7 linked regions of the Homo sapiens genome follow. The protein of the gene in region 2 purifies or fractionates together with the protein of the main gene of each other region. This does not show direct contact. Each region holds a gene or a part of one and is shown on either strand. Other genes may lie near its edges. The genes, in order: STAU1, IGF2BP3, RCC1L, PAIP1, G3BP1, EIF2S3 and HNRNPM.

What was found.
Region 1: the proteins of IGF2BP3 (region 2) and STAU1 purify together in Homo sapiens (affinity purification with mass spectrometry; 2 studies listed by BioGRID). This does not show direct contact.
Region 3: the proteins of IGF2BP3 (region 2) and RCC1L purify together in Homo sapiens (co-immunoprecipitation; 2 studies listed by BioGRID and IntAct, with this or other methods). This does not show direct contact.
Region 4: the proteins of IGF2BP3 (region 2) and PAIP1 purify together in Homo sapiens (co-immunoprecipitation; 2 studies listed by BioGRID and IntAct, with this or other methods). This does not show direct contact.
Region 5: the proteins of IGF2BP3 (region 2) and G3BP1 purify together in Homo sapiens (affinity purification with mass spectrometry; 2 studies listed by BioGRID). This does not show direct contact.
Region 6: the proteins of IGF2BP3 (region 2) and EIF2S3 purify together in Homo sapiens (affinity purification with mass spectrometry; 2 studies listed by BioGRID and IntAct, with this or other methods). This does not show direct contact.
Region 7: the proteins of IGF2BP3 (region 2) and HNRNPM purify together in Homo sapiens (affinity purification with mass spectrometry; 2 studies listed by BioGRID, with this or other methods). This does not show direct contact.

The regions. Positions count from the first base shown.
Region 1 is NC_000020.11:49,115,093-49,119,414, forward strand, and holds part of STAU1 (double-stranded RNA-binding protein Staufen homolog 1), read right to left. Parts: intron 3,317-4,322; coding exon 3,241-3,316; intron 3,005-3,240; coding exon 2,685-3,004; intron 2,157-2,684; coding exon 2,034-2,156; intron 776-2,033; coding exon 690-775; intron 1-689. UniProt on the Homo sapiens protein: Binds double-stranded RNA (regardless of the sequence) and tubulin.
Region 2 is NC_000007.14:23,313,035-23,317,356, reverse strand, and holds part of IGF2BP3 (insulin-like growth factor 2 mRNA-binding protein 3), read left to right. Parts: intron 1-3,703; coding exon 3,704-3,835; coding exon of another isoform or gene 3,836-3,888; intron 3,889-4,322. UniProt on the Homo sapiens protein: RNA-binding factor that may recruit target transcripts to cytoplasmic protein-RNA complexes (mRNPs). This transcript 'caging' into mRNPs allows mRNA transport and transient storage.
Region 3 is NC_000007.14:75,042,508-75,046,829, forward strand, and holds part of RCC1L (RCC1-like G exchanging factor-like protein), read right to left. Parts: intron 603-4,322; coding exon 525-602; 3' UTR 1-524. UniProt on the Homo sapiens protein: Guanine nucleotide exchange factor (GEF) for mitochondrial dynamin-related GTPase OPA1. Activates OPA1, by exchanging bound GDP for free GTP, and drives OPA1 and MFN1-dependent mitochondrial fusion. Plays an essential role in mitochondrial ribosome biogenesis.
Region 4 is NC_000005.10:43,529,348-43,533,669, reverse strand, and holds part of PAIP1 (polyadenylate-binding protein-interacting protein 1), read left to right. Parts: intron 1-3,790; coding exon 3,791-3,884; intron 3,885-4,322. UniProt on the Homo sapiens protein: Acts as a coactivator in the regulation of translation initiation of poly(A)-containing mRNAs. Its stimulatory activity on translation is mediated via its action on PABPC1. Competes with PAIP2 for binding to PABPC1.
Region 5 is NC_000005.10:151,795,792-151,799,707, forward strand, and holds part of G3BP1 (ras GTPase-activating protein-binding protein 1), read left to right. Parts: intron 1-1,435; coding exon 1,436-1,637; intron 1,638-3,420; coding exon 3,421-3,522; intron 3,523-3,916. UniProt on the Homo sapiens protein: Protein involved in various processes, such as stress granule formation and innate immunity. Plays an essential role in stress granule formation.
Region 6 is NC_000023.11:24,074,976-24,079,297, forward strand, and holds the end of EIF2S3 (eukaryotic translation initiation factor 2 subunit 3), read left to right. Parts: intron 1-1,746; coding exon 1,747-1,810; 3' UTR 1,811-3,835; downstream 3,836-4,322. UniProt on the Homo sapiens protein: Member of the eIF2 complex that functions in the early steps of protein synthesis by forming a ternary complex with GTP and initiator tRNA.
Region 7 is NC_000019.10:8,472,138-8,476,459, forward strand, and holds part of HNRNPM (heterogeneous nuclear ribonucleoprotein M), read left to right. Parts: intron 1-1,526; coding exon 1,527-1,571; intron 1,572-2,029; coding exon 2,030-2,107; intron 2,108-4,322. UniProt on the Homo sapiens protein: Pre-mRNA binding protein in vivo, binds avidly to poly(G) and poly(U) RNA homopolymers in vitro. Involved in splicing.

The sequences.
Region 1 (4,322 bases), on a different chromosome or scaffold from region 2:
AGGAAGAAAATGAGGGAAGAAATATATGTCTATATTTGTATAAAGAAACATACAGGAAAGATACAGGAGAAACTAGTAAAAATGTGATCTATGGGGGAGGCGGTGGGGAGAATAGGAGGGATGGGATGGGGGCTGTCCGAGGGGAAGATTGTACCTTGTAAAATAATGCAGAGTTCTGACCATGTGAAGGTATGACCAACTCAAAAAGGTTTTTTTGTTTTTTTTTGGGACGGAGTCTTGCTCTGTCGCCCAGGCTGGAGTGCAGTGGCGCTATGTCGGCTCACTGCAACCTCCGCCTCCCAGGTTTTAAGCAGTTCTCTGCCTCGGCCTCCCAAGTAGCTGGGATTACAGGTGCCTGCCACCACACCTGGCTAATTTTTGTATTTTTAGTAGAGACAGGGTTTCACCATCTTGGCCAGGCTGGTCTTAAACACCTGACACCTCATGATCCACCTGCCTTGGCCACCCAAAGTGCTGGGATTACAGGTGTGAGCCGCTGTTCCCAGCCTCAAAATGTCTTTTAAAAGTAGAGCTTTCTGCCCAGAGAATCTGGAAAACTTTCAGGCAAAAGGGCCAGAAAGTAACTCAGGCAAATATTTCCCCGCTGAGTCAGCAGATAGTGTAAACTCAACACAAACGAGGGGCAGCCTCCCCATCATCAGCGCCTTCCCCTTCATCAGTGCACTCACACAGACATTGGTCCGTTTCCTGTTCTTGGCATCTCTGTACTTTGTTGGTCCAACTCAGACAGCAACTTTAAGATGTTCAGCGCAGCCTAGTGGGGATGGAAAGAAGGGTAAAGCCACAGCCACCGCTTGGGACCACAGCATAATACACTGGTCAGGCAGGCAAGAGAGTTCCTGCTGCCCAGCAAACAGGTGGCAACTTCTTCAACTCTGGTACTACTAAATAAAACTTTGAATTTTTAATTTAAAATACAAATTAAAAAATATTCAGTTACCTCACTGAATCATAACCTCTGAAAATGTTATATTTTTCCTTCTAGTATTTTTAACCATGTGGTAACCAGACTGTATAAATGTTATATCCTGCTTTCTAACAAAAATCTATCATGTATTTTTCTTTCTATAGAGACAGGGTCTCACTAAGTTGCCCAGGCTGGTCTCAAACTCCTAGGCTCAAGCGATCCTTCCACCTTGGCCTCCCAAAGTGCTGGAATTACAGGTGTGAGCCTCCACACCCGGCCTATCATGTATTTTTCTTCTTATTACATTATCTTCGGAGACACTGTTTTGTTTTGAAACGCAGTCTCACCCAGCTGCCCAGGCTGGAGTGCAGTAGTGCAATCTTGGCTCACTGCAACCTCCACCTCCCGGGTTCAAGCGATTCTCCTGCCTTGGCCTCCCAAGTAGCTGGGATTACAGGCACCCACCACCACACCTGGCTAATTTTTTTTTGTATTTTTAGTAGAGATGGGGTTTCACCACGTTGGCCAGGCTGGTCTTGAACTCCTGAGCTCAGGTGATCCGCCTGCCTCAGCCTCCCGCAGTGCTGGGATTAGTGTGAGCCACCACACCCCACCCAGAGACATTAATTTCATGCATGCATGACATCCCATCAAGTGAATACATCACAGTTTACTTAGATTTGTTGATCTGATCAATTCCTTTTCTCAGTTTTCTTATAACAATAATTTCATCTGAACAGAAGACCAAAGCAAGTGGTTTTTACAGCTGCCAGAACGTGGACCTGCAATTCCTTGTTCTGGTGAGAGATGAAGTGAGTGCAGTCTCTGGGTGAGCTGCAGGATCCCAGTTGCCCCTCCAGGCCAGCAGGGAAAAGGAAGGGAAAGGTGGGCTAAAGCTGATGAGTTCTGATCAAGAGTGAGAAATCGATCCAATCAGCTATGACAAAAAGTCTTCAAAAATATGAACACTATCAAACGATTCATTGCTCTCAAGGTCTATGGGACAATCTTTCTCCCATCTTCCTCAGGCTAGTAACAAGCTGAACCAAGGCAGGCTCCACATAAACACACAACACCCCAATCCCTCACCCAAGGTGTGACGTACCATATCATGGCAGGACTCCACATCCTTGCCGATACCATGGCTGATCAGAGGTGGCTGAGAGGAGCAATTGATAAGAGATACAAATTCGTTCTTGTTGTTTTTGGGGAAGTCTTTGTATTCAACCTAAGGGGGAAAAGAGAGCTGAGGCTAGGTAGGGAACAGCAAGTATGAGTGGGCTGGAGGGCTGCAGCTCCAGGCCCCACAAGCAAGATCACCAGCTCTTTTTTCCAACTCAGCCCCACTGTGGCCATACTAACACCTGCCCTGTCAGCCCAGAACCTTCCAGGAACCTAGGTGTCTGCTCAGAAGCCCAAGACTGGGAGAAGCCATATCCTTTCCTACCAGACAGAAAGTGTCAGCACGATGAGTCTGTTCTTTGAAATCCAAATTTACAACCACTGCTAGTGGTTAGAAGCTTTTAGGGTTGGCTTGCATGTTGAAATCTTACTACCAAAGGATAAAGATATTTCTCTTACCACATATGCTTACAATACTTCTATACCTCCTACCCTTCCATCACTGCTCCCCAGCCCATCCCTGGACAGAACTTGATTTAAGAAAAAAGTACAAAGTTCAAAGTTCATTTTCTGAGAGAAGCCAAAAGATGACTGTCCTGAGGCACAGCCATCACAGCTCAGGCCAGACAGTTACCTGGAATCCCTGGACTCTGGAAAGATAGTCCAGTTGCTCAGAGGGTCTCGTGAGAGGTCCATGGGGTACGTGGCCTGAAGAGATGTTATTCTTTAAAATGGTCTCGGCTGTGGGCGAGGTGCCCCCATACAACAACTCTCGGGCTATCATGGCAGTTACCGTGGCCTTGGCAGGATTCGGAGCTGCCCTGGTAAAATCTTTGGTGTGATGTCCTTGACTAACTCCTACAGCCTGGGCGACCTCGGGCACCATGGGAAGAATTCCAGCAGGCAGCTGCTGATGACTTAGATAAGGCATCCTGAACTCATCCTCTTTATTACCTGGGAGGGACATACACGGTAAACACGAATCCACATCCACAGCCTGGAAAAACGCAATGACACCATCAAACCCCACGCTGGCCCTCCCCTTGGCACGCATGGCAGCGCAGGGAATCAGGGAATGATAAAGACACTTTGCATGCGGGACCTCACTGGCTGGGCTCCTGCTGTTATTCAGGACCCATGCAAATCCCAGAATCACGTTCAGAGGAAGACGATATTAAGATCACACTTACTAGTCCCATTTTCATCCCCAGAGCCAGGTTCAAAAAAGGTTACTTTTCTTCCATCCCCTGGTTTCTTTATGGGTGTCTTAAAAAAGAAGAAGAAAAAAAAAAGGCCATGAGCATAAATCAGATCACTGAAAAATTAGCTCCTGCTGTCTAAATCTACACAAAGTCCAGTCAGCAATAACTGTGGCAATCGGCAGAAAAACCCTGCCCCACCTGACCACTGGCACCCTGACAGACACCTGGGCAGAGCCTGCCTCCTTCTCCTAATGCACCCTCCTGCCCACACCCCTGCCCACAAAGAGCATCTAACAAAGTGCACTAACCTGTGAATGCTGAGCTGCACTCTGCACCCACAGGAAGACGGGAAGCATTTAACCAGAAAGAGCAGAGATGCTAGACGGTAGAGCCCACCAAGGTGGGGAAAGAAGCTTTCAGACTGAAGCTAAACAAATAAATCAAGAATATTTCCTGGAGCTGATATCCAATTAAAAAATAAGGTGACATTCCAAAATTAACACCCTTACGGGGAAAATGTTATTACCTAAGAATTTTGTCTAACACAACATCACCTTTCTAAGAAGTAACAAAGGACACTCTGAATGTCCTACAAGATTCTGAAATGAAAAACCCTAAAGCCAAGTCTAAGATCTATACTGGTGGTATCTGGGGTCCCAGTCAGTTATTAACTGGCCATGACTGATGCTGTTTCTGTCAATATGACTGGCAGACATGAATGAATCAGGCCTGATTTCAAGTTTATCTCACCAGGACCATTCAGTGATGGGAAAGAAGAAGGTCAGCCATGGCTTTTGCTGAGGTCCTGCTTACCACTTCTGGCAGACACGAATTTTTCTTTTTACGTTCCTTTTTTGTTGTTGTTGAGACAGGGTCTGTCGCCCAGGCTGAGTGCAGTGGCATGATCACAGCTCACTGCAGCCTTGACCTTCCAAGGCTCAATCCTCCCATCTCAGCCTTGTAGCTCGGGCTACAGGTACAAGCCACCATACCTGGCTGATATTTTAATTTTTTGTAGAGACAGGGTTTCATCATGTTGCTCAGACTGGTCTTGAACTCCTGGATTCAAG
Region 2 (4,322 bases):
CTGCCAGGTTAATATGCCTTGGAAACTTGTTTTCAGATGTTTTCCCTCCTGTCCCTGAGATTGCCTAGACTTGAATTAAAATGCCCCCTTTTTCCTTACCCTTGGATTATCTCTGTTAGACCCTGCCCATAGACTCTACAAATCTCTCTAATCCCTGGGATCTTAGAGATAGGAATGGCAGGAGCTCTTGTAGCATTTGTTCTGGTATGAACCATTGCACGTTTAGTGGGATTTGAGGTCTTTGGGGCTGCAGTGTGCCTTTCAATGTCTACTGAGAGATGGTAGAGCTGAGACTTGGCAGCCAGGCTGCTAGTTCAAATCCTAGCTCTGCCATTTGCCTTGTATGACATTGGGCAAGTTACTTAACCTTTTTCTGTAAAACCAGGGATAAGAGCACCTACATCCTAAGGTAGTTTAAGGTTTACACAATATATGAAATGTTTAGAAAAGTGCCTAACACATGGGCAGCACAAAATTAGCGTGCTGGGGGTATTCAACAGACTATGGATGAATCAGACTAAGACCATGCCAAATTCATAAATATATTCCTTTTAGTGTATGATTTCTCCCACAAAATTTAGTATGGGTGTCTTGTCTTAGAACATTTAGTGGCTGTGTAAGAAGACAACTATTTAACCTTAAGCTGTAGTTTTTTTTTTCTCTTTTTTTTTTTTTTTTTTTTGAGACAGAGTCTCACTCTGTCGCCCAGGCTGGACTGCAGTGGCGTGATCTCAGCTCACTGCAAACTCCACCTCCTGGGTTCAAGCGATTCTCCTGCCTCCGCCTCCCGAGTAGCTGGGATTACAGGCATGTGCCGCCACGCCCAGCCAATTTATTTTTAGTAGAGATGGGGTTTCACCATGTTGGCCACACACTCAAACTCCTGACCTCAAGTGATCCGCCCACCTTAGCCTCCCAAAGTGCTGGGATTACAGGCATCAGCCACTGTGCTCCTGGCCAAGCCTTAGTTTTTTTAGCCTTAAAGTGTAACAGTAACTAGTAACAGTGCATACAGTTCTCTCCCCACCCCACCTCTCTCCCTTAAATCAAACAAAAAAAATCACTTTCTTTGACTTCTATTTTCTCTGGGCCATTTTTTCACTAAAAACCCAAAGCTGCTTTCACTTATGTGAAGAATGGGAAACGAAGGAGGTGCTTTGAGATGTGGGTGGTTAGGTGAAGAAAGAAAATCATGTGAAGAAATTTATTCCTTCACAGCAGCCTTGTGATCCAGGCAGTTCAAATCTTAACTCAGAATTGTTGAAAACTGCTTCCTATCCCAAACTCTCAGGGTCACTTTTAGTTTGAAATCTTAAAAGATAAATACAAACATGTCTTTCCTTGGTGCTGAGCTTTTAGTCTTATAAGTAGAATTACTGTCCTGCAACTCCTATGATGTTTGTATGATAGGAACTTCAAAGTTCTTTCCCTGTATTCACTAATAAAACTCATGTTTTATAGTTAACTTAAATGTAACACTTAAGCCATAGTAGTTAAATTTTATTTATGTGATTGGTGACAATGCTAAATGAATGTTTTACTTTAGAGATCTAAGGAATGGTAAACCACCTACCCCGTATTTTTCCTTACAAATTCAAGAGCTTCAGTTTTGGAGGATAGTGTATATCCCTAGTGTCTTTTTGACTGTCTTAAGTAATAGTAATATCTACGTCATTGGCCTGAGGCATTAAGGATCATTGGAATATAGGGTATCAAGATGAATTTTGTTTTGTCGGTAGTGCCCTAAAATGAGCTCAGCTTTCTGAATCAGTGAACGCGTGTTGGGTACTATTGTTTTTTGTGGTTTACCCTGGCAGCTTGTCAAACCAACTCTCAGGCTCCTTTCTGCTTTGCTGTATGTAATAGGTTGTTTATATATAATAGGTTGTTTATATAGTTGCATGCAGTAGGTGATAGGATGTATTGACTCTAAATATCAGAAGTGTCTTGGCCAGGCGCGGTGGCCCACGCTTGCTATCCCAGCACTTTGAGAGGCCTAGGTGGGTAGATCACTTGAGTCCAGGAGTTCCAGACCAGCCTGGCCTACATGGCAAAACTCCATCTCTACTAAAAATACAAAAATTAGCCAGGCATGGTGGTGGATGCCTGTAATCCCAGCTACTTAGGAGGCTGAGGCAGGAGAGTCACTTGAACCCAGGAGACAGAGGTTGCAGTGTGCTGAGATCGCACCACAGAGAAAGAGACTCTGTCTCTAAAAAAAATAAAATAAAAAAATAAAAAAAAATAAAAGGCAGGGCACAGTGAGTGGCTCATGCCCATAATCCCAACACTTTGGGAAGCCAAGGTGGGTGGATCACCTGAGGTCAGGAGTTCAAGACCAGCCTGGCCAACATGGTGAATCCCCGTCTCAACTAAAATAACAACAAAAAATTAGCTGGGTGTGGTGGCGGGCACCTGTAATCCCAGCTAGTTTGGGAGGCTGAGGCAGGAGAATGGCTTGAACCCGGGGGTCGGAGGTTGCAGTAAGCCGAAACCATGCCATTGCACTTCAGCCTGCATGACAGGGTGAGACTCTGTCTCAAAAAAGAAAAAAGTGTCTTACCTTGATGTTGTAGCCTCTTTAAAATATTCAAAGGAAAAACCACCTTTCTAAGAGTATGAAACACATTTAAATTGAAAACATTTTTCTCAGCAGGTTTCTAACTGGCCCATGTAGATGTGAGCTTGACTTTTAGTGAGCTTGGCATAGCTGACTCTGCAGTTCTGTCTCTTTTGCTCAAAAAAAATGTGACCAGGTGTGGTGGCTTGCACTGGTAATACCAACACTTTGGGAGGCCAAGGCAGGACTCTTGAGCCCAGGAGTTTGTGATGAGCGTGGCAACATAGCAAGACCCCCATCTCTATAAAAATTAGTGGCGCAGTGGCTCACACCTGTAATTCTAGCACTTTTGGAAGGCTGAGGTGGGCACATCACTTGAAGTCAGGAGTTCGAGACCAGCCTGACCAACATGGTGAAACCCCATGCCTACTAAAAATGCAAAAATAATTAGCCAGGTGTGGTGGCTAGTGCCTGTAGTCCCAGCTACTCAGGAGGCTGAGGCAGGAGAATCACTTGAACCTGGGAGGCGGGGGTTGCAGTGACCCAAGATCGTGCCACTGCACTCCAGCCTGGGCAACAAAGTAAGACTCCGTCTCAAAAAAAAAAAAAAAATAAGTCAGGTGTGGTGTTGCATGCCTGTAGTCTGCTACTCAGGAGGCTGAGGTAGGAGGATCGCTTGAGCCCAGGAGGTTGAAGCTGCAGTGAGCTATGATTGTACCATTGCACTCCAGCCTGGACAACAGGAGGACCCTGACTCCAACAAAAAGGAAAGAAAAATGCAACTGATGTCTCATGGCCAGCATGAGAAGTTTTACCTATCACAATTTTAGTACGAATGGCCATTTGCCCACAAAAATTCGTTTTTATTAGGTTATTAATTGCCTTTAACTGTTTTCATCAGAAGAATATGGTTTATCCTTCTTTCACCAAGCATTCAGTTGCCTCTACTGTGATGGGCAGTAGTTATTGTCAACCTTTTAGGACTTCTAACTGCTCTCTTCTATGTTATTTTCAACAATCTATGAAATGTAGATGTATCACTGCAAAGGGCTATCCCACTTGGATTTGGGCCATCTTTCAAGTTAACTGACCTTTTCCATTTCATACATGAATGACACTAATAGGATGTGTTTTCATCTGCAGGCTCAGGGAAGAATTTATGGAAAAATTAAAGAAGAAAACTTTGTTAGTCCTAAAGAAGAGGTGAAACTTGAAGCTCATATCAGAGTGCCATCCTTTGCTGCTGGCAGAGTTATTGGAAAAGGAGGCAAAACGGCAAGTACTTCAGCAAAACCTGTGCAGTGGTATGAAAGGGAAAGCGTTGAAAGGTACTTAGGAGTTCCAAGTCCCCGAATTTTGGCTAATTTATAAAAAGCAGGACCATCTTGACCAAGGTTTGGAGAAGATTGCCTTTTGTTTCCTGTCTGAGTGTTGGTGCCAGCTATTAGTGAAAGTAATGCATCTCTTTCAGATCACTTTGTGTGAGAGGATTGTCCTATATTTATAAAGGGCATTTAACGTTCTCCTGATAAAACTTTAGCTTTTTATGGAACAGACACTTAACAGGAATTTTAAAAATTTCATCTACAGCTTGTTACATCTGTAATGGAAAAAAAGCAAACTGTTTCTAGTCTCTAATACATATAACTTGTAAGTGGGTTTCAAAGCTATTTATAATTTTGAAGTGATTGAGTACATACACTTTGGAATCAGACTCAGGATTTGAATCTGGTTTTGCCATTCACTTGTATAACTGGACAAA
Region 3 (4,322 bases), about 52 Mb from region 2:
TTGCGGTGTGGCAGGCGGCCAGGAAGGGCCATGAGCAGGGTGGCCTGAATGAAAACCGAGGGCCGAAGCCAGCCTGACTCCCTCGCCTAAGCTGGGGCTCGGTCCGAGGCACACGCATGGCCTTGGCCAGACACAAACCAAGAGACTGCCATGACAGACAGAGCAGAAACCTCCCGAGCACTGTGTTCAAGCTAAGCTTTCCTAAGACGGGCTTCTCAGGCGAGACGTGACACCAGACACCGTCGCATGTTACTTGGAGAGAACAGAGACGTGCGGGCCACAGCGGCCCACCAAAGGCTGCCATCCAAGCTGAGTTCCGCAGGCCTCACCTGCAGCTGGAGAGGGACCTTGCCCTGATCCTCCTGGTAGGTACCCGCTAAGGGATTCAGGACAGAGCGTCACACTGCACGCAGGGTCCTCCGCCACCACCATCCAAGAACCCCGGGGGGCTGGCCACGCGCTGGCCTCTGCCAAGGAGTGCCAGTGGTTCCCGGGACGGGGCCGCCCAAGCAGGTGAGGGAGGTTTAGATGAATGACTTGGCCAGGGTCACCATGTGGTCCACGCCACATGCCACGTCCACAGGCTCCCCAGGCATCGTCACCTGAAAAATAAGATCCAGCATACCATGGGTGGGGGTGGCGCACCCGGAGGAGACAGGCGCTGGTGTTGGCCGACCCGGCCCTGCCTCTCAGTAGGAGACTCAGTAGGAGACAGCTTGTCTCAGCAGGAGACAGCTTGTCTCAGTAGGAGACAGCTTCTCTGAGCCTCGGCTCCCTACCCTCTGGGAATGGGGGCACTTAGGCCTCCCCAGCAGGTCCATCAGGACAACTGCGTGTGGTCATGAGGACAAGGCCATCCCAACTCCCTCCAGTCAATGGCAGCCATCACCATTCACATCAGCCTGAGAGGGCATGTCGGGCAGGAACATGGGCCTGTGTGCATCCCTGGAACCTGCACGCCCTACAGGGGCTGCTCCCCTCTGACCCTAACCCCACTAGGCTCCATGCCCCCAGGCCAGGTGTTCAGAGATCTCTCCTGGGAGCCACTGCTATGGCTCACTAAGAAGCTCCAGGGGCTGGGCGCTGTAGCTCACGCCCATAATCTCAGCACTTTGGGAGGCCAAGGCAGGCGGATCACGTGAGGTCAGAAGTTTGAGACCAGCCAGGCGTGGTGGCAGGCGCCTGTAATCCCAGCTACTCGGGAGGCTGAGGTGGGAGAATTGCTTGAACCCAGGAGGTAGAGGCTGCAGTGAGCCAAGATTGCACCACTACACTCCAGCCTGGGTGACAGAGCGAGACTCTGTCTCAAAAACAAGCTCCAGAAACCCTGTCTCTTGCCTTGCAGGTCCAGTCTGGGAATCAGGCCCCACTGGCCCAACATCTCCACTCATCTTACCCGTCACCCCCAGCTCCAGTCACAGGCAGGCTGCGTCCCAAGTCACGACCACCAAGCAGGGGCAGTGGCTGTGTCTCAAAGACCCTTGCCAGGAGCCCTGATCACACTGCCTGTCTGGGCTGACAACATGGCATCAGAGGACAGCCCAAGCTTCAAGGGAGCAAGAAGATGGCCTCACTGAGACATGGAGGCTCTAGCCTGTTGGAAGGGCGCCCACTGTTCTATAGCCTCGCCATGGAAACGGACACCCTCAACAACTCCAGGTGTGCCCAGGGCCATAGCCAATCCAGCTATCCAGGAAAGGGGCACTCTGCTTTCTCTTTCTTGTTTATTATGACTAGGCAGTGCATTCACATAGCTGCAAGATAAAAGGACATTCAGTGAAAAAGAAGAAAAAGCTATTAAATGATTTTTATGCCGGGCGCAGTGGCTCACACCTGTAATCCCAGCACTTTGGGAGGCTGAGGTGGACTCCACTTGAGGTCAGGAGTTCAAGACCAGCCTGGCCAACATGGTGAAACCCTGTCTCTACTAAAAATACAAAAATTATCTGGGTGTGGTGGCGCACGCCTATAACCCCAGCTACTCGGGAGGCTGAGGCAGGAGAATCGCTTGAACCTGGGAGGTGGAGGTTGCAGTGAGCTGAGATCGCACCACTGCACTCCAGCCTGGGCGACAGAGCAAGACTCTGTCTCGAAAAAAAAAAAAAAAAAAAAAAAAGTCTTTCATTACCACACCTATCACCAGCTGCCCCAGTCCCCATCTGCCTCTGAACTGAAAACTACTTTTAACTGATTTCTTATTAACTTTCCAGAGGTTTGTTTTGTTTTTGTTTTAAGAGACAGGGTCTAGGCCAGGCGCAGTGGCTCACGCCTGTAATCCCAGCACTTTGGGAGGCCGCGGTGGGCAGGAGTTTGAGACCAGCCTGGCCAACATGGTGAAACCCCGTCTCTACTAAAAATGCAAAAATTAGCTGGGCATGGTGGCAGGCGCCTGTAATCCCAGCTACTCAGGAGGCTAAAGTAGGAGAATTGCTTGAACTCAGGAGACAGAGGTTGCAGTGAGCCGAGATCACGCCATTGCACTCCAGCCTGAGCAACAGAGCAAGACTCTGGCTCAGAAACAAAAAAGAGGCAGAGTCTCACTTTGTTGCCCAGGCTGGAGTCTAGTGGTGCAATCACTGCAGGCTTAACCTCCTGGGCTCAAGTGATTTTCCCGCCTTAGCCTCCCAAGTAGCTGGGACTACAGGCACGTGCCACCATGCCTGGCTAATTTTGTTTGTTTGTTTGTAGAGACAGAGGTCTCACTATGTTGCCGAGGCTGGATTATAGAGACACAATCATAGCTCGCACTACAATGTCGAACTCCTGGGCTCAAGCTATCCTCCCACCTCACCCTCCCAAGTAGCTAGGACTACTGGCATGCACCACTATGCTCAGCTTATTTTTGTATTTTTTGTAGAGACAGGGTCTTGCCATGTTGCCCAGGCTGGTCTCGAACTCCTGGGCTCAAGTGATTCTCCTGCTTCAGCCTCCCGAAGTGCTGGGATTCCAGGTGTGATCCCCAGGCCTGGCCTTCCAGAGGTTCTTTATGCAAAGAAGCAGATATGCATCTCTCTTTTTTTTTTTTTTGAGACGGAGTCTCGCTCTGTCACCAGGCTAGAGTGCAGTGGCGCAATCTCAGTTCACTGCAACCTCCGACTCCCTGGTTCAAGCGATTCTCCTGCCTCAGCCTCCCAAGTAGCTGGGATTACAGGCATGCAGTACCATGCCCAGCTAATTTTTGTATTTTTCGTAGAGATGGGGTTTCACCATGTTGGCTAGGATGGTCTTGATCTTCTGACCTCGTGAGCCACCTGCCTTGGCCTCCCAAAGCGCTGGGATTACAGGCGTGAGCCGCTGCACCTGGCCTTCTCTTCCTTTCTTAAGTGCCAACTGCAAAGAAAGTGACCCTGCCTGGCTTGGCCGGAAGACCCCTGCCAGGATGCTGGCACTTGATCTACTGACCAGATCCGAATTCGACCACCCTCCCCTGGTGGCAGCATGCAGCCAGGTGGTGTGACAGCTGGAAAGGGGATCTGTCACAGTCTGTGGAGTTTACCGAGCTTAAGAGGGAAACCGCCTAATCCAGATGGCCTGGCCCTAAAAGCCGAGAGGCGGCAGGCGCCGACCCCGGAGCTTTGCACCTACGCCAGGAGACAAGACCATTAGGGACTCCTGGCCACAGCAGATGGATGCTAGAAACCAAGTCATGCTGTCATCCCCCAGCCCTGTCCCTAAACAAATGAATGTCTTTAGCAGAACCTATTACAGGAATCACTAAACAAACAAGAACGGGGCCCAGTGAATCGCAAAGGCACGTCGATGCAGAAAGCCTGAGAGGCTGGCCGGAGAAGAAAACAGGCTGCCTCTGCAGGGACTGGGCCCCGACCGCCTCTTAGCAACCTCCCCAGCCATTAGGGAGCACTTTATTTACCTTTCCCGGGACAGTGCGCTTCCTCACGGCTGCACTTAAGCCCCCAGGTCCTTGCTCCCCGAGGGCTCTGGCCATTCAAGCCCAAAGCAAAGGAAGCCACGATGGTCTCTGCTGCGGGTGGCCTGGGCAGCAAGGGCCCGGCTCCTGGGAGCCAGCCCTAGGGACCAGCGGGAGGCTCCCCAAGGTTCCAGCTCCCCCTGGCGGACAATCTCACACGGTCTCTGAACTGAGTCCAAGAGGAGACTGCCCTCAGCCATGTTTTATTTTTGTCCTAGGCAAGGTTAAATGGCGTTTTTCTTCTAAGCCAATTTACACTCACAACTCCGCTGCTGAGGGAAACAGTTCCAAAAACCAGAACCATATTTAGCCTTGGTGACTCTCTTAAAAGTCTCAGCAGAATCCATTTAGGAACATCCCTATCCACAATTACAAGTTGCTAAAACGAACGCCC
Region 4 (4,322 bases), on a different chromosome or scaffold from region 2:
ATCCTCACCAGCACAAGATTGTAACTTTTTGATGTCTTCACATCATTCTAAAATACCAGTGTAATGGTTTGTCTAATATAGAATGCTCTTCATAGTGACCACTTGAAACATTTCAAATGAAAGTATGATTCCACATATAATGTCTTGTCACTTAACAACAGAGGATGGGAAGAATTCTCAATTAAATGCAACTATTTTAATTTTATATTTCCTCTAACTTTTTTATAATCTTAAATTTTCAGGTGATTAGAATGGAGGGGAAAGACGATTCTAGTTCACTGCATAGTCAGCAACATATATTAATATGGGTTAATACTTTACACGAAGAATTACACATTTCATTCATACTTGGTGTGTGACAGTTAATTAAAATCCAAATCTCTGCACATTTCCTCTTCCAGAAGAGGACCATTTATAGAAAGATTGCCTTAATTGTATTAGATGGAACTGTAGAGTGAGGAAGAGAAATTTTTCCCTTTGGTACAAACTGCAACCAGCTTATGGTTGGAATTTTTCCATTTGTTTCCTCTGGATTCCAAGCATTGACTGTCCTGTGTCTCTAGCACAGAGAAGTTTTTTTAGGGCAAGGAAGTAGAATTAAGTTACACGCTATGGGCATCTTAAACTTCACTAAATGTTACTAAATTGTTTTCTAGCATGATTATGCCACTTAATCTTCCCATCAGCAGCACATGAGGGTTCCTGCTCCTCATCTTTGGCAATACTTTTTATTAAACTTAATTTTTGTCCATCAGATTGTATGAAATTCTATCTTGCTGATATTTTATTTCCCTGACAAGTGATATTGAAGTTTTCTTGTTCTTGTTGACCTTTTTGATTTCTTTCTTTGAGAATTGCCTGCTAATACTCTTTGTTCATATTTCTGTTGGATCATTTGTCTGTCTTACTGATCTGTAATTCCTTTTGTAGTCTAGAACAAAGTGATTCTTAGCTGAGGGTTTTGGTTACCTTCTTTCTCTCAGTATTTGCCTGTCTTTGCATTTTGTTTATAATGTCATGTAGAACCTTTGAGTTTTAATGTGAACAAAATTTATCAGTCTTGTTTGTAATTTCTGTGGTTTAAGAAAGTTTCCTTACCATTTCTGTTTTCTTCTAAAAATCATTGTTCTTTTTTATTTTTAGGTCTTTAATCTACCAGTGCAATTTTTATATAGGATGATATCATAGGAATTATCTTTTCCATTGCCTGTTGTCTCAACAATTGGTATTAAGCCATCCTTCCTTTCCTAGTTATAATAAGCCCCCTTTGTTGTATACTATGTAACTCTTCTATCAAATTGTGTCTTATTCCTGTGTTTGTGTGAATCTTTTTTTCTGTTAATCTCTTTCTATGCCAATACTACACTTAAATTATTTTTACCTTACTGTGAATCTTGCTATGTCTGGTAAGACAAATCTTTCCTCTTATTCTTAAAAATTACCTTGATTTATTTTGATTATTTGTTTTTTATTTTTTCTAACCTGTTTAATTGTTTCTAGTACTGTTCGATTTACAGAAATTCAGTTTGGTTGTTCAGTTTCTTTTCAAGGAAAAGAAGTAATGTAGACAGCCAGTAGATCTCAGTTTCTTTTTCTTAAACGTTTTTTAATCTGCTATACTTCATGAAAGTAAAAGAAATCTTACAGTTTTACAGAAAAATCAAGCTAAATTTTGTTTCTGCATTTTGTTCAAATAATCTTGACCTTTTCTCAGAGTTTCAAGTTATTTTTTCTCATCATTCTAAACATGCTTACTTCTGTCTTATATTTTTGTTTTATCTCTTAATTATAACCCTTCTGTTATTTCTGATCATCACACATAAAATTTTTGCCTTAACCGTCTTAAACTTTTATTTGGAAATGATTTCAAACTTACAGAAAAGTTACAAAAGTAAAATTGTACAAGGAATACCTTTTACCCAGGTGTACTTTTTGTTAACAGTTACTTGCTTTATCATTTGTGCTCTTTCCACACACTTTTCTTTTTTTCTCTTTTTTTTTTTTTTTTTTTTTGAGACAGAGTCTCACTCTGTTACCCAGGCTGGGGTGCGGTGATGCAACCTCGGCTTACTGCAACCTCCACCTCCTGAGTTCAAGCAATTCTCCTGCCTCAGCCTCCCAAGTAGCTGGGATTACAGGCCTGTGCCACCACGCCTGGCTAATTTTGTATTTTTTTTTTTTTTTTATTGAGACAGGGTTTCACCATGTTGGTCAGGCTGGTCTTGACTTCCTGACCTTGTCCACACACTTTTTTTTTTTTTCTTAAACCATTTGAAGTTTCATATTAATATGACCCTGATTAAATGCTTCAGTGCTTTGTCTTTTTTCTTTTTTCTTTTTTCATTTTTTTTTTAATGAAAAACACTGTGGCTTGGATTATAGGAACCTCTGTCCAAAATGGTTTATATTTCCTTCTGCCAGGAGCCACAGAGTAGGTATCACTGACTTGGACAAATTTTTTGTTTTCTTGTCATAGGGGTTCTTTATGTGGGTAGTAGGAATTTGAGGTGCAGGCCCATTGTTAAAAATTCTCTGGGGCACCAATTTCTACAAAGTGCTCTGTCCCTATTCCAAACCCAGGCAGACATGACCAAGCTTCCTGCTATCTCGCAGGGAAGATAAAATACCACTGAGATATTTCTTGGTCTTTTTTCCTGATTCACCTTTTGTTTAAGATACCAGACCTTTGAGGGTCCCAGGTTTGTGCAGGTGAGGTTGGGCATGGAGCATGGATTTCATTTTCCTGTTTCACATGGGGCCCAAGACCTTGCTTTCTGGCTTTCTGTGGGTTTTAAAATCCAAGCCCCTTAGTTACCGAGACCAACATCATCTGTCAGCCTCCCAGCTGCAGCAGCTGCAGTTTATATATGGCTTTCAGTTCCTTCTTCATTTGTGACCTGATGACTTGGATTTTCTTTTTTGTGAACTTATCCATACATTTAAAAGAATGCCTGTCTTTTTGTAGCAGGAAGGTTTTACTGTTAAAACGGTCTCTAAATTGTCAAAATTGGGTATCAAAATGTCCCCAGCCCTTGAAGCTGGAGTTACGGTTTTATACAGACTGACACAGTCTTGGAAGAACATGGCTTTTACCCAGTCTAATATAATTGCAAAATTTCCGTTGGCTTCTGTTCATAAGAAACTATAAGGTAACTAGTCTTAATATATACTGATTCATTTTTTTATTCAGAGGTTAGGACTTCATAAAGAAATACTTAACTTAAAAGGTACCCAATAACTCTTCCTAAGACAATTGGCAGATAGGTGTAATATCACCTGTATTACCTTGGAGGACCCAATGAAAGGAAAGTTGGCAGAGCTGAAACGTTTACCAGGTAGCTGCCTTCCCCATCTCTCTGGGAAGAAAGGGAAGGAAAATCCCCCATTGTTAAAACTTTTGGTAGGTTAACTTCATCTGAGGAACAGAGACCAATTGTTGTTACCTGCTTTCTTTACTTCCTTGTGGAGGAGTACAGAGGGAGCTGGAAACCAGTAGTATTTGATTAATATCTTTCCAATGGAAGGACTGTTCTTCCCCAACAGTTATATAACCATTATTTTGTCTGATGGAAAGCAGCAGTAGAGGATATAAACACATTGGCTATGAATGTACATCACCTACAGTGGCTTTGATTTCCAACTTATATCTATAGTACTATATGTAATTACTTTAAGATTTCTGAGCATGCAGGGGGGCAAAAGTCATAATATTAAAAAACATTTAGGGGTGATTGGTCATTTCATGTGATATTTTTTCAGTATTTAGTTTTTCTCCTATGTTGTCTTACAGATTACCAAGAGAAATACCAAGAATTACTTGAAAGAGAGGACTTTTTTCCAGATTATGAAGAAAATGGAACAGATTTATCCGGGGCTGGTGATCCGTAAGTTTTCTTCAGTTACTAACTTCGTGAAATTTCTGTGTCTAATTTATAGGTGGAGATTAGACAAAGTAGCTCATGAAGGAATGGTGTTTGGGGCCAGGCGCAGTGGCTCGTGCCTGTAATCCCAACACTTTGGGAGGCTGAGGAGGGCAGATCACTTGAGGCCAAGAGTTCAAGACCAGCCTGGCCAACATGGCGAAACCCTGTCTCTACTAAAAGTACAAAAATTAGCCAGGATCACAGAATCACAGCTACTCGGGAGGCTGAGGCACAAGAATTGCTTGAACTTGGAAGGCAGAGGTTGCAGTGAGCCGAGATCGTGCCACTGCACTCCAGCTTGGGAGACATAACTAGATTCTGTCTCAAAAAAAAAAAAGGCATTTTGATTTGATGGTGCTATGTGGTAGTGTTTATGTACTAAAAATTTTCAGAAAATTG
Region 5 (3,916 bases), on a different chromosome or scaffold from region 2:
TTTAAATAGTATCAGTTTCTTTTTGGTTTAGTTTTTTCTTGGTGTTAAGTGAAAACTTGCATATTGTTTATCAAGAGTTGAATGTATTGAGGTATTAAATGCTTTGAGGGAATATGAAGTGGACAGAGACCTATTTAATTAGAGATCGGGCATAAATTGATATAAATACCAATATGTGAGTTAAGTAGCAATAAAGAATTTCATTACGTTAGTAAGTGCATCATTATACCTTTGGGTTTTTTCCCCCTTGTGATTAGAACAGAAATGTGTTTGATAGCAATAGAAATCCATATTTACTTGTTACCATGTGATACTGAATGTTAATATTCAGTGCCTGAAGGGTGTTTTCAAGTGTTTCTTAAGGTGTGATGAACTAATCAGGTTACTCACTTGGGTTGCTGGTTGAAAATGAAGATTCATGGTCCCACTGCAAACCTACCGAATTAGACTTTCAGGAGGCAAAACATCTGCAGTTTTGTTTGTTTTTGTTCTATTGAGACAGAGTCTTGCTCTGTTACCCAGGCTGGAGTGCAGTGGCGCGATCTTGGCTGACTGCAACCTCCGCTTCCTGGATTCAAGCAATCCCCCTGCCTCAGCCTCCTGAGTAGCTGGGACTACAGGCGCACGCCACCATGCCCGGCTAAGTTTTGTGTTTTTGTAGAGATGGGGTTTCGCCATATTGGCCAGGCTGGTCTGGAACTCCTAATCTCAGGTGATCTGCCCACCTTGGCCTCGCAAAGTGCTGGGATTACAGGTGTGTGCCCAGCCCCCTCTGCAGTTTTAACAGCATTTCTGGTTGATTTATGTGGAATTTTAAGAATTGTATTCTGAATCATAACTATTTTCTCCCCCAAATTCCTTATGTGCTTGAAAGAGTTTTTGTGTGTTTGTGTTAAAAGCCACATATCATAAAATTTGCCATCTTAACCTTTTTTTCATCTTAACCATTTTTAAGTGTAAAGTACAGTAGTGTTAACTGTATAGATGTGGTTCTATGACAGATATCTAGGACTTTTCACCTTACAACTTTTATTGAAGATAACTTTATATACCTTATAAACAGACTATACCCATTGAATGGCAACTTTCTTTCCCGCCCCCCCCGCCCCAGCCTATTTTGAGAGTTTTTCTGATGTTGTATGCTAAATGAATTGTAATAGTTGTGGGATTCCAGCCATAAAGTGGTTTGGTTCATTTTGATGTCCTGATTCATTTGCTTATCAGAATTTGCCAAACAAATGGATTCCAGTTAAGTTATTGAGTGGCATTTTAAAAATTACTTTTTAAAAACTCAGATAGATATACAATTCTTAGATTTTTGTTTTGGATAGAAGGAGCTAACTCTGTGTTCTGGTTTCTGATTAATAAATGATGGAGGAATTTTTTGTGAAATAAATGGTGGCAGAATGATATTTCTCAAATTTTCCTGTCAAAGTAATGACATGGAAGAACATTTAGAGGAGCCTGTTGCTGAACCAGAGCCTGATCCTGAACCAGAACCAGAACAAGAACCTGTATCTGAAATCCAAGAGGAAAAGCCTGAGCCAGTATTAGAAGAAACTGCCCCTGAGGATGCTCAGAAGAGTTCTTCTCCAGCACCTGCAGACATAGCTCAGACAGTACAGGAAGACTTGAGGGTATGAAACGTGTCTTCATTTTTATTCTATTCCTAGTTATTTTTTTTAAAAAAAGTTTCTGTTCTTTTGTATTGCTGTTTGGTTGACTTGTAGATACATTTTCATATTGGTGGTTCATTTCAGGGAAATTTCTTAGATATTGAGCCATATGTTTGATAAGAGAGAGGTAAGATGTGTATTAGTTTATTTCATCAAAAGAAACCACTCCCTTCCCCGAGGTAACTTGAATGCCTGTTAGACCAGAAATTTTAGGTGCCACTGTAGCACCCTATCAGTGATTCCTTTTCTATTTAATATTTAATCTTTTACACTATAAATTATTACATACTTGTTACTACAAGTGCATAACATCTTTTCAAGAAAAATAACATGGCAGAATATACTTTTTCTATGAAATTTTATTGAAGATAACTTTATAGTGGAAGTAGAAATGAACTGCTGAAGTAAAACTTCTTTTCTAGTTGGCATACCTGATTTCAGAAGTTTTCAGTTTGTCCTTCTGAGTCTCGTCAGGGTGATTGTTAACTGAACTATCGTTGAAACCTTTGCATTTGGTGCTCTGGAAAGGAATATAATTTTTAGTGCTGTGTTTATAGGCTCAGGGTTATGTCATTTGTTTGTTCAATAATTCAAATTCCTGCTGTGTGTTAGGCATTGTTCAAAGTGTAGGTTTTATATTGGCAAAACAGATAGGGGTTCTTGTTCTCTGGCAGCTAATAGGTGAGTAGGAAAGAGCAATGTTGAAATGACTTTAGCTTGCAAGTGGAAAAAATTAGCTGGGCATGGTGGTGCCTATGTGTGGTCCCACCTGCTTGGGAGGCTGAGGTAGGAGGATGGCTTAGCCTGGGAAGTCAAGGCTGCAGTGAGCTATGATTATGCCACTGCATTCCAGCCTGGGTAATAGAGTAAGACCTTGTCACAAGAACAAAACCATAAGAAGCAAGTGGAAAAGTAGGTTGGCTGGACCAGCTGACCACTTAGTTGGTTATTATAGTAACCCTAGTGAGAGAGAATGATGGCTTGAATTAGAGTTGTGGCAGTGGAAATGGAAAAGAAATAATTAGGTAGAATAACAGGTTCTGGCGATTTTTAAATGTGCGAGAAAGGTGTTTATGATGATTCTACAATTGATGTAATTGAGTCGATGTTTGTACAATGGATTGGATGGAATCACAGTAGGAAGAGCTGAGCTGATTTTGGAGGAGAGGGAATTTTGTTTGATTCACAGATTTGAATGAAAGTAGCTTTTGTTGGGCCAGGCGTTGTGGCTTACGCATTTAATCCCAGCACTTTGGGAGGCTGAGGCCAGGAGGATTGCTTGAGTTTAGGAGTTCAAGACCAGCCTGGTCAATATAGTGAGACTTCATCTCTACTAAAAAGAAAAAATAGCTGGACATGGTGGCACATGCCTGTAGTTTCAGCTGCTTGGGAAACAGGTGGGAGGATCACTTGAGCACAGGAGATGTAGGCTGCAATGAGCTGTGTGCATGCCACTGCATTCCAGCCTGGGCAACAGAGCAAGATTCTGTCTCAAAAAAAAAAGTGAGTAGTTTCTTGAACCTAAGCCTCTCGGATTTGCTTGGTACTTGATCATCAGTCCCAAGGAATTTCAGTACTAAATTTTGAATAGCTGAAAGAGAAGAATCTTAATATATATATATAAACTCCATCCTGCCTATGAGAATGTGTTACCGTTTGTTCTGTACAGGAAATCAAGAGTTAGTAGCTTTTATATTGTTTTGATACCTGGTATAATTATGTAATGTTGGTATTGCTCCCTTAGACATTTTCTTGGGCATCTGTGACCAGTAAGAATCTTCCACCCAGTGGAGCTGTTCCAGTTACTGGGATACCACCTCATGTTGTTAAAGTACCAGCTTCACAGGTAAGGTCCTAATAAAACTTGTACATTAGGCAAATTTACTTCTATTGTGGTAATTTGATTCAACAGAGGTTTAGAGAATGTGAAAACTGGTCAGGTGCAGTGTGGCTCATGCCTGTAATCCCAGCACTTTAGGAGGCTGAAGCCAGCTGATCACTGGAGCCTAGGAGTTTGAAACCAGTCTGGGCAACATAGTGAGACCCTGTCTCTACAAAAAATAAGAAATTAGCTGGGCCTTGTGGCATGCATCTGTAGTCCTAGCTACTTAGGAAGCTGAGGTGGGAGGATTGCTTGAGTCCCGGAGGTTGAGGCTGCAGTGAGTCATGATTGTGCCACTGCACTGCATCATGGGCGACATACTGAGACTCTGGCTCAAAAAAAAAAAACCAACCCAAAT
Region 6 (4,322 bases), on a different chromosome or scaffold from region 2:
TGCCTCAGCCTCCCGAGTAGCTGGGACTACAGGCACACGCCACCACACCCGGCTAATTTTTGTATTTTCAGTAGAGACGGGGTTTCACCACGTTGGCCAGCCTGGTCTTTAACCCCCGACCTCAGGTGATCCGCCCTCCTTGGCCTCCCAAAGTGCTGGGATTACAGGCATGAGCCACCACGCCTGACCTCTTTCTTCTTTTTTTTGGAACATTTCCTTATTTTCTGGCACAAAATCTTCCAGACTCATCTTGTACCTTCTCTGTTCCAGTTTTAGAACTGGCCATTTCTCTTATAAATGAAAAGCTGAGTGTTCAGGTGTGCTCATGGCTCTTAGGGTGCTGTTGCTTCTAGGTCTTTTGAGAGCATAGAGCCAGGAAGCATACACACATTTTTGGCTCCTGACTTTTTGCTCTTTCCCAGGTTATTGAGTTTGCCCCTTGCTTTCCATTCCTCGTCACCTCATCACAGTCCATACCACCATCACTTTACACTTCACAGTTAGTGCGAAAGACTCCTAGTTTGCCTCTTAACTTGGTCAAAATTAGTCTTCTTAAAACATTTTCATCATGCTGTGTTTAATAATTTCTAGAGTCTTCTCACTACTTTTTGATATTTGGGACTTTTCTAGAAACCTGCTTCAACCCATTTAAGCTTTCCTTCTGCATTGTCTTATATAAACCCTCTAAATTAGACTGTTTTGTGCCCTAACTGTCCCCATAATTATTCACATCACCCCTACCCACTATCTACTTCCTTAATTATTTATTTTATATTTTTTAGAGGCAGGGTCTCTCTGTTGACCAGGCTGGAGTTTAGTGGCATGATCATAGCTCACTGCAGCCTCAGTGTCTAAGTAGCTAGGACTATTGGCTCACACCACCGTGATCAGCTAATTTTTTTGTTTTTTGTAGACACTTGGTCTCACTGTGTTGCCCAGCATGATCTCAAACTCCTGGCCTCAAGCCATCCTCCCACCTCAGCCTCTCAAAGTGTTGGGATTACAGACATGAGCCACCCCGCCCAGCCCTGTTTCCTTTATTAAGGCTTCCATGCTACTGTGCCCACGATGGTCTCATCACTTGTCCAGGAGATTTATCTGAATTATTGCCCTGTAATTTAGAAAGTTAAATTTTTGTTGTCTCTTAAGTAAATAATTATTTGTGGTGACTTATGCCCTTTTGATTTTACTGTCTTTTGTGATTATATTTTTTTGCTATTACAGACACACGACTTCCAGTGTATTTTGAAATAGATTTAAGCAATAAACTTTCAGTCCAGGCACGGTGGCTCATGCCTGTAAGCCCAGCACTTTGTGAGGCCGAGGTGGGCGGATCACTTGAGGCCAGGAGTTCGCAACCAGCCTGGCCGACATAGTGAAACCCCATCTCTACTAAAAATACCAAAAAATCAGCCGGGCATGGTGGCGCATGCCTGTAGTCCCAGCTACTCGGGAGGCTGAGGCATGAGAATTGTTTGAACCCAGGAGCCAGAGGTTGCAGTGAGCCGAGATCGTACCACCGCACTCCAGACTGGGTGACAGAGTGAGACTGTCTCAGAAAAAACACACAAAAGCAAGAATAAAAAAGAATCTAAGAATATAGTGTGGGCTTTCTTTATGGAGGAGCAGGCTTTGGGAACAAATTTGAATTCAGAAGATAAGCAGGTAAAATTTATCACAAGATTGTGTGGTAATGAGAGTGAAGTGGATGTAAGATTTATGATTTCTTTTATTTTCATTTTGCAGTTTAATTGGTTGGGGTCAGATAAGAAGAGGAGTGACAATCAAGCCAACAGTAGATGATGACTGAAGAATACCAGTTAAATAATACATTCGGATGGATTTGGAAGTTGGAATTCCTCTTAACAACCAAGGGGTTTATTTTCAAAGCAATATTGGGGAATTGATTTCACAGTTCGTTACCTTAGTAGGTAACGGTAAGGTTATTCTCTTTTTTTTTTTTTTTTTTTTTGGTTATGAAAACTTAGGGACTAAAATTAATATAAAAATTGGCATAATGTTGGATTGAATCTACATTTTGGCAGAAGTTAAACATTCCCACATAATGTCAAAATTATACATCATGCAGTTCTGTTTTTTTGTTTGTTTTATTTTGTTTTGTTTTTGAGTCTGGCTCTGTCACCCAGGCTGGAGTGCAGTGGCGTGATCTGCAACCTCTGCCCCCCGGGTTCAAGCGATTCTCCTGCCTCAGCCTCCCGAGTAGCTGAGATTACAGGTGCGCGCCACCACACTTGGCTAATTTTTGTATTATTAGTAGAGACGGGGTTTCAGCATGTTGGCTAGGCCGGTCTCTCCTGACCTCAGGGTGATCAGCCCACCTCGGCCTCACAAAGTGCTGGGATTACAGGCGTGAGCCACCTTGCCCAGCCCACATCATACAGTTTGAAATGAAACTTTGCCACAACCAGCCTTTGCTGTAGCACACACATATATCACTGAACCTGTTTGAAATAAAGTTTTTTTTCTTTTTCATGATTCGTCTTTGAGTACCTCCAGGCTGAAAGACTGTTGTACCAGTAAAAACTTAAAGGCACAAATTCTCCTTGAAGACCTTCTCCCTTTTATGTGGCCCCATATTTTATGTTGCTTTATCTTTGAAATTTTGCATGAAAAGGAAATGAATGGATTCGAATGAAATTGTCCTTTAGAGCATGATTACTTGTTCCCATGGACAAATATTTTTCTCCCCTTGCTCTTCCTGGCCTGAAACACGGGAAACCAGAGTCAAAAGTTATCTCCCTCTCCCTGTGATGCCTTGAGATTTTTTTCTGCGTTGTTTAATGCCTGAAATCCAAGTCTTCCTCCATGGGAAAATACTGTTATACCAAATAATTCTAGATGAGTAACAAAGATCTTTTTAGGCCTTCATTTTATGTTTTTTCTTAACTGTTATATTATGATTGTGACATAGATTATACTACTACTAATTTTTGGATGTTTCAAAAGGTCAAGAAGTAAAAGATGTTAGAAAGCAATGAGTGAGTCCTTTTGATTTTTAACTTATTCCCCATGTCCCTATACTTCGTGTGCTTTTCCTTTTTTTTTTTGAGACGGAGGCTCACTCCGTCACCTAGGCTAGAGTACAGTGGCACGATCTTGGCTCGCTGCAACCTCTGCCTCCCTGATTCAAGTGATTCTCGTGCTTCAGCCTCCCATGTAGCTGATATTACAGGCACTTGCCACCATACCCGGCTAATTTTTGTATTTTTAGTAGAGATGGGGTTTCACCATGTTGCCCAGGCTGGTCTTGAACTCCTAACCTCAGGTGATCCGCCCGCCTCTGCCTTCCAAAGTGCTGGGATTACAGGCGTGAGCCACTCTGCCCGGCTTATTTTTCTTTATGTTTTTGCTTCGTAAGAGGTTCTGTTGAGCAGTGATTTGCAACTCTTGCTGACGTTGCTGGGGAAGCTTTAAAAAAAAAAAAGATGCCCCACAGAGATTCTGATTTTAATTGTTCTGATTTAATTGGCTTGGAGTAGAATTCAGGCATTGATATCTTTAAAAACTCCCCAGTGTTGAGAAACAAATTTAGAGAGTTGAGAAGTAGGTATATTAAATTACAGAATCTTACTGAGTTTTGGTAGACTGATAATACAATTTGCTTTGCTTTTCTTAAATTTGCATTGAGATGGGATTTGAAGCATATTGTGCTCTTGTGAATGTTGAAGTTGCATTGTAGAAGTTTAGAAGCTCTGGCTATGGGTTGCCTAAATTGATGTTTTGAGGAAGCATATTAATGTTATAAACTTCGCTGACTTTGAAGGTTGTGTTGTAGCATGAGGAACACAAATAAAACAATTCTAAATCAAACTAATTTTATATCTAACATGTCCCCATGTGTTTTGTAGGTACCTTCTACCAGAAATTTTGGAATAAGACTTAAAATATAGACATTGTAATTAATCTCATGTAAGATTTGAAACCAGAATTCTATTATAATTAATTTCAGACATCCACATGAATTAGCAAATTTGTAAAGCACTGTACTGAGTGTAATGGGCATATACAGATAGGAAGTAAATGGACCTTATTTTAATAGAACTTGAAGCCAGAGCAGTGATTCTTAGCAAGAGATGTACCTAGTTGAGAATGTGCCTGTAATGTTTCTCATGAAAGTACATTACAGCCAGGTGTGGTGGCTCACGCCTGTAATCCCAGCACTTTGGGAGGCTGAGGTGGGCGGATCATGAGGTCAGGAGTTCGAGACCAGCCTGGCCAACATGGCGAAACCCTGTCTCTACTAAAAATACAAAAGTTAGCCGGGTGTGGTGGCAGGTGCCTGTAATCCCAGCTACTCTGGA
Region 7 (4,322 bases), on a different chromosome or scaffold from region 2:
TTCAGCCTGGCAACAGAGCGAGAGTCCGTCTCCAGAAAAAAAAAAAAAAAAAAAACCTGCATGAAAGCTTTGATGTGTAGAATAAACTCAGGCTTTGCTGTTTAGCATTTTCATTGCTGTGTAATGATGTATTTTGATTCTATTAAGGAATATGTCATTTTTATGACCTTAGACTTTGGTCTTTGTTGGAATCCTTTGAAATTGGAATATGGAAGCCCCTCTATCCCACCATTGTCAGTGTTGCATATCCCTAGACTCTCTTCCAGAGTCACCCTGGGGCTGACTTAAATTCTGGGCCACAACTTCAAATGGCTGTTAACGTTTCCCCCGACCCAAAACACACACACCCCATGTCTGACATCTAAACAGAAAGACTGGGGGTTGGGGAGGAAGTCTTGGTGTTTTTAGGAACTGGTTTTTATTTTGAAGATTTTACCTTTAACAGGGATTGATTTATTGAGACGGAATTTTGCTCTTGTTGCCCAGGCTGGAGTGCAGTGGCTCAATCTCAGCTTACCGCACTCAATCTCTGCCTCCTGGGTTCAAGTGATTCTCCTGCCTCAGCCTCCCAAGTAGCTGGGATTACAGGCATGTGCCACCACACCCAGCTAATTTTTTGTATTTAGTAGAGACAGGGTTTCACCATGTTGGTCAGGCCGGGCTGGAACTCCTGACCTCAGGTGATCCACCCGCCTCGGCTTCCTGAAGTGCTGGGATTACAGGCGTGAGTCACCACGCCCACCCTTAACAGGGATTCTTAAAAAAAATCTACTTCTGTTCCCTAAAATTTTCTAAAAAGTTTATGTTCCATAGAATGTGTCTTATAATTCTATTTCATGTTTAATACTGCCTAACTTGAGGCCTGGTGTGGTGGCTTATGCCTGTAATCCCAGCAATTTGGAGGCCGAGGGTTTGAGACTAGTCTAGGCGACATAGACTCCATCTCTACAAAATATAAAAAAAATCAGCCAGGTGTGGTGGCGTAGTCCCAGCTACTTGGGAGGCTGAGGCAAGAGGATCACTTGAGCCTGGGATGTTGAGGCTGTAGGGAGCTGTGACCATGCCACTGCATTCCAGCCCCAGTGACAGAAGGAGACCCTGTCTCAAAAACAAAAAAAACACAAAAACCCTGCCCGACTGGGTCATTAAAGTATGTAGATCCCTCAGAAAAAGATTAGCCAGGCGTGGTAGCAGGCGCCTGTAATCTCAGCTAGTCGGGAGGCTGAGGCAGGAGAATTGCTTGAACCCGGGAGGTGGAGGTTGCAGTGAGCCAAGATTGTGCCATTGCATTCCAGCCTGGGTGACAGAGCAATACTGTGTTTAAAAAAAAAAAAAATAGCTATATGATATTTGACAGTTGAAATGGTAAGGGCTTTTTTTCTTGCTGATTAAAATATATAAAATATACTTGTCATCAGGGATTTTCTTTTGAGTTCTTTTGCTGGTTTGGAATTATGCTTTTTAAGTTCAAACGTTATTTACTGCTTTGACATAATTTTAGTTTGCATTGACTTTTTCTTTTTAAGGAATGGGAATGGAAGGCATAGGATTTGGAATAAATAAAATGGGAGGTAAGAAATTTAAAATGAAGTACAAGCATAATCACTTTTAGGCATAGTTTTCTCTCTTTCCTCTTTTCTTTCTTGTTTAAACCCTGCATGAAATTCTCTTTGGTTTCAGTTTGAGTCTAGAAATGACTTCCTCCTGCCTGTCCATCCTTCCAGCGGGTGTCTTGGCTTTTGGTTCTGGCTGTCTCACTAACTAGCTCTGTGACCTTGGGCAGACCACTCCATCTCTATGCCTCTTTTTGCTTGTCTATTCATTGAGGGGGTTGGATCAGACCAGCTTTTTGAAGATGGGTGATTTTTAAACAAGGGTGCTAGCATTTTTTTTGTTTTTCAAAAGCCTTTAAACTTGGTAAGTTCTTGGCAGAAGATACCCCAGTTGAAACATGTGATAGAATTTTTCTTTCCCTGCTTAGTCTAAGCAGTCTTGTTGGATGATGCTGAAATGTGAACCTCTCTTGCAGGAATGGAGGGGCCCTTTGGTGGTGGTATGGAAAACATGGGTCGATTTGGATCTGGGATGAACATGGGCAGGATAAATGGTAAGCATCGTGTTTTCTTCCTGCTTTCACTCACCCTTTGCCGGCTGTTGCCTCTCAGGTGACTTTTAGGCTGCAGACCCACTGAATAAGTGGTTTCTCACTTCTGCTTTTCAACCGAATCAAATGTCTTTTGAATTGCCTTAAATATTTCAAAAACTAGACATAATAGTAGACTTACTTCACTTGGTCGCTAGTCTTTTGAGATGTCCTGTGTTCCCAAGCTCTGCAGTAATTTTCGAGTACAGTGTTAAAAAGCATGTACACGTTCGTGGTTATGGTCTCCGAGTATGAGGGATTCTTTAAAGTTTGTAATCAAGTTTGTCTCTGGGAGTGCTGCAAAGGGTTGTTCTTGGTCATCTGCCCCAGCTACAAGTTGTCTATAGAGGCGTTAATAAAAATCACAGGCTCTTTTAATTTAGCATTTACATAATGCAAATTCTGGTTTAGTATAATTCAAATCCTCCACCAACTTTTTTTTTTTTTTTTTTGAGACAGGGTCTCACTCTGTCACCTAGGCTGGAGTGCAATGGTGCGATCTTGGCTCACTGCAACCTCCGCCTCCCAGGTTCAAGTGATTCTCCTGCCCCAGCCTCCTGAGTAGCTGGTATTACAGGTGTGTGCCACCATGCCTGGATAATTTTTATATGTTTAGTAGAGTCGGAGTTTCACCATGTTGGCCAGGCTGGCCTCGAACTCCTGACTTCATGTGATCCGCCCGCCTCAGCCTCCCAAAGTGCTGGGATTACAGGCGTGAGCCACCGTGCTCGGCACCTGCCCCCAACTTTTTAGCAGAAATATAATAATATAATAACAATGTAGTATTTCATTTAGTCCTTGTGAGAACCACATGATATGTACATACTGCTATCCTTGTTTCATCTGAAACTGAGGCACAGAGAGTGACATGCCTAGGTCAAGTGACTGGTAAACAGTGGTGCCTGCATGTGAACCCAGGCTGTCTGGCTCCAGAGCCTGGCACTTCATCATGTGGGAATCCTGCCTTTTAGAAGTGCCTCCAGCACAGCACTTGGCCCAGGGCACCAGCAGGGCTGTAGAGTGTGCATGAGAAATTGTAAATTTTCCTTTTTGAAATCCTTTATGTGTTGGTGACTCTTTGACCTTCCCCTTCACTGCAGGAAAGCTGCTGCTTTTTTACACAGAAACTTTCTTGGACTGAGAAGTCATTAGGGATTTAGGTATAAACCTTCCTTTGCGGGTCTGCCATAACAAAGGATGTGAAAATGGTACAAGGACAGACATCATTGTCAGGCTTGAAAGGCGGCTGTCCCTGATGATCAGGCCCTTCTTCCGGTGCACAGGGAGCAGTGGGGCATGATGTGTGTTGCCCTCTTCATGGGTGCCTTGTTCTAGAAGCTGGTAAAAGGATGTAGGAAAGTTGTCACCATTAGTAATAAAGCAACAGAGGTCTGCGTTTCCAGTGTACATTCAAGCTTGCCTGTAACTTGTGTGTGCATGGGATTTTAATTTTTAAAAAAAGTTTCAGAAATCTGGCTTGGTAAAATGTTACTCAGAGCAGATTAGTCTGGGTGTGCTGGCTCACGCCTGTAATCCCAACACTTTGGGAGGCTGGGGTAAGAGGATTGCTTGAGCTCAGGAGTTCAAGATCAGCCTAGGCAACACTGCGAAACCCCATCTCTCTCTTTTTTTTTTTTTTTTTTTTTTTTAAGAACAGATTAGTCATTAGGGAATTTGAGTTGTTGCTGTGAGGAGTAGAGTGATGCAGTTTAGAAGTAGATGGAAATCAGGATGGGTTGGCCTGGGAGCTGTGCTGAGCCGTGTGACACAGTCGATGGTGAACTGGCAGGTGTAATCTCGCAGTCAGGATTCAGAGCCTGGGGTACGCGGTGGCAAAGGATTCCAAGTGCTGATTCTCTGGAGAACCACAAATGGAGTGTGTTTTCCTAGACTGTTCTTAGATGTTCTGAGATACGGCACTCGGAGTGCTCCCCACACCCTCTACAGCTGAGAACAGGGACTCCTTCCCACTTGACCAGCATTCTTTGGTTTGGGTGGGATGAGCTCTAGAGCCCTTGGGCACTGCAAGGAAACTGTACATCACACTGGAGGAAGAATTGAAGCAGACGTTTGGGTTTAATGAAATGTTAATTCATGACTAGAGTGTAGCCATTATGGTCATGGGTGCTCCCATCAGACTGCTGGTCATGCAGGTTCCCAGGACCCACACTCAGCATGA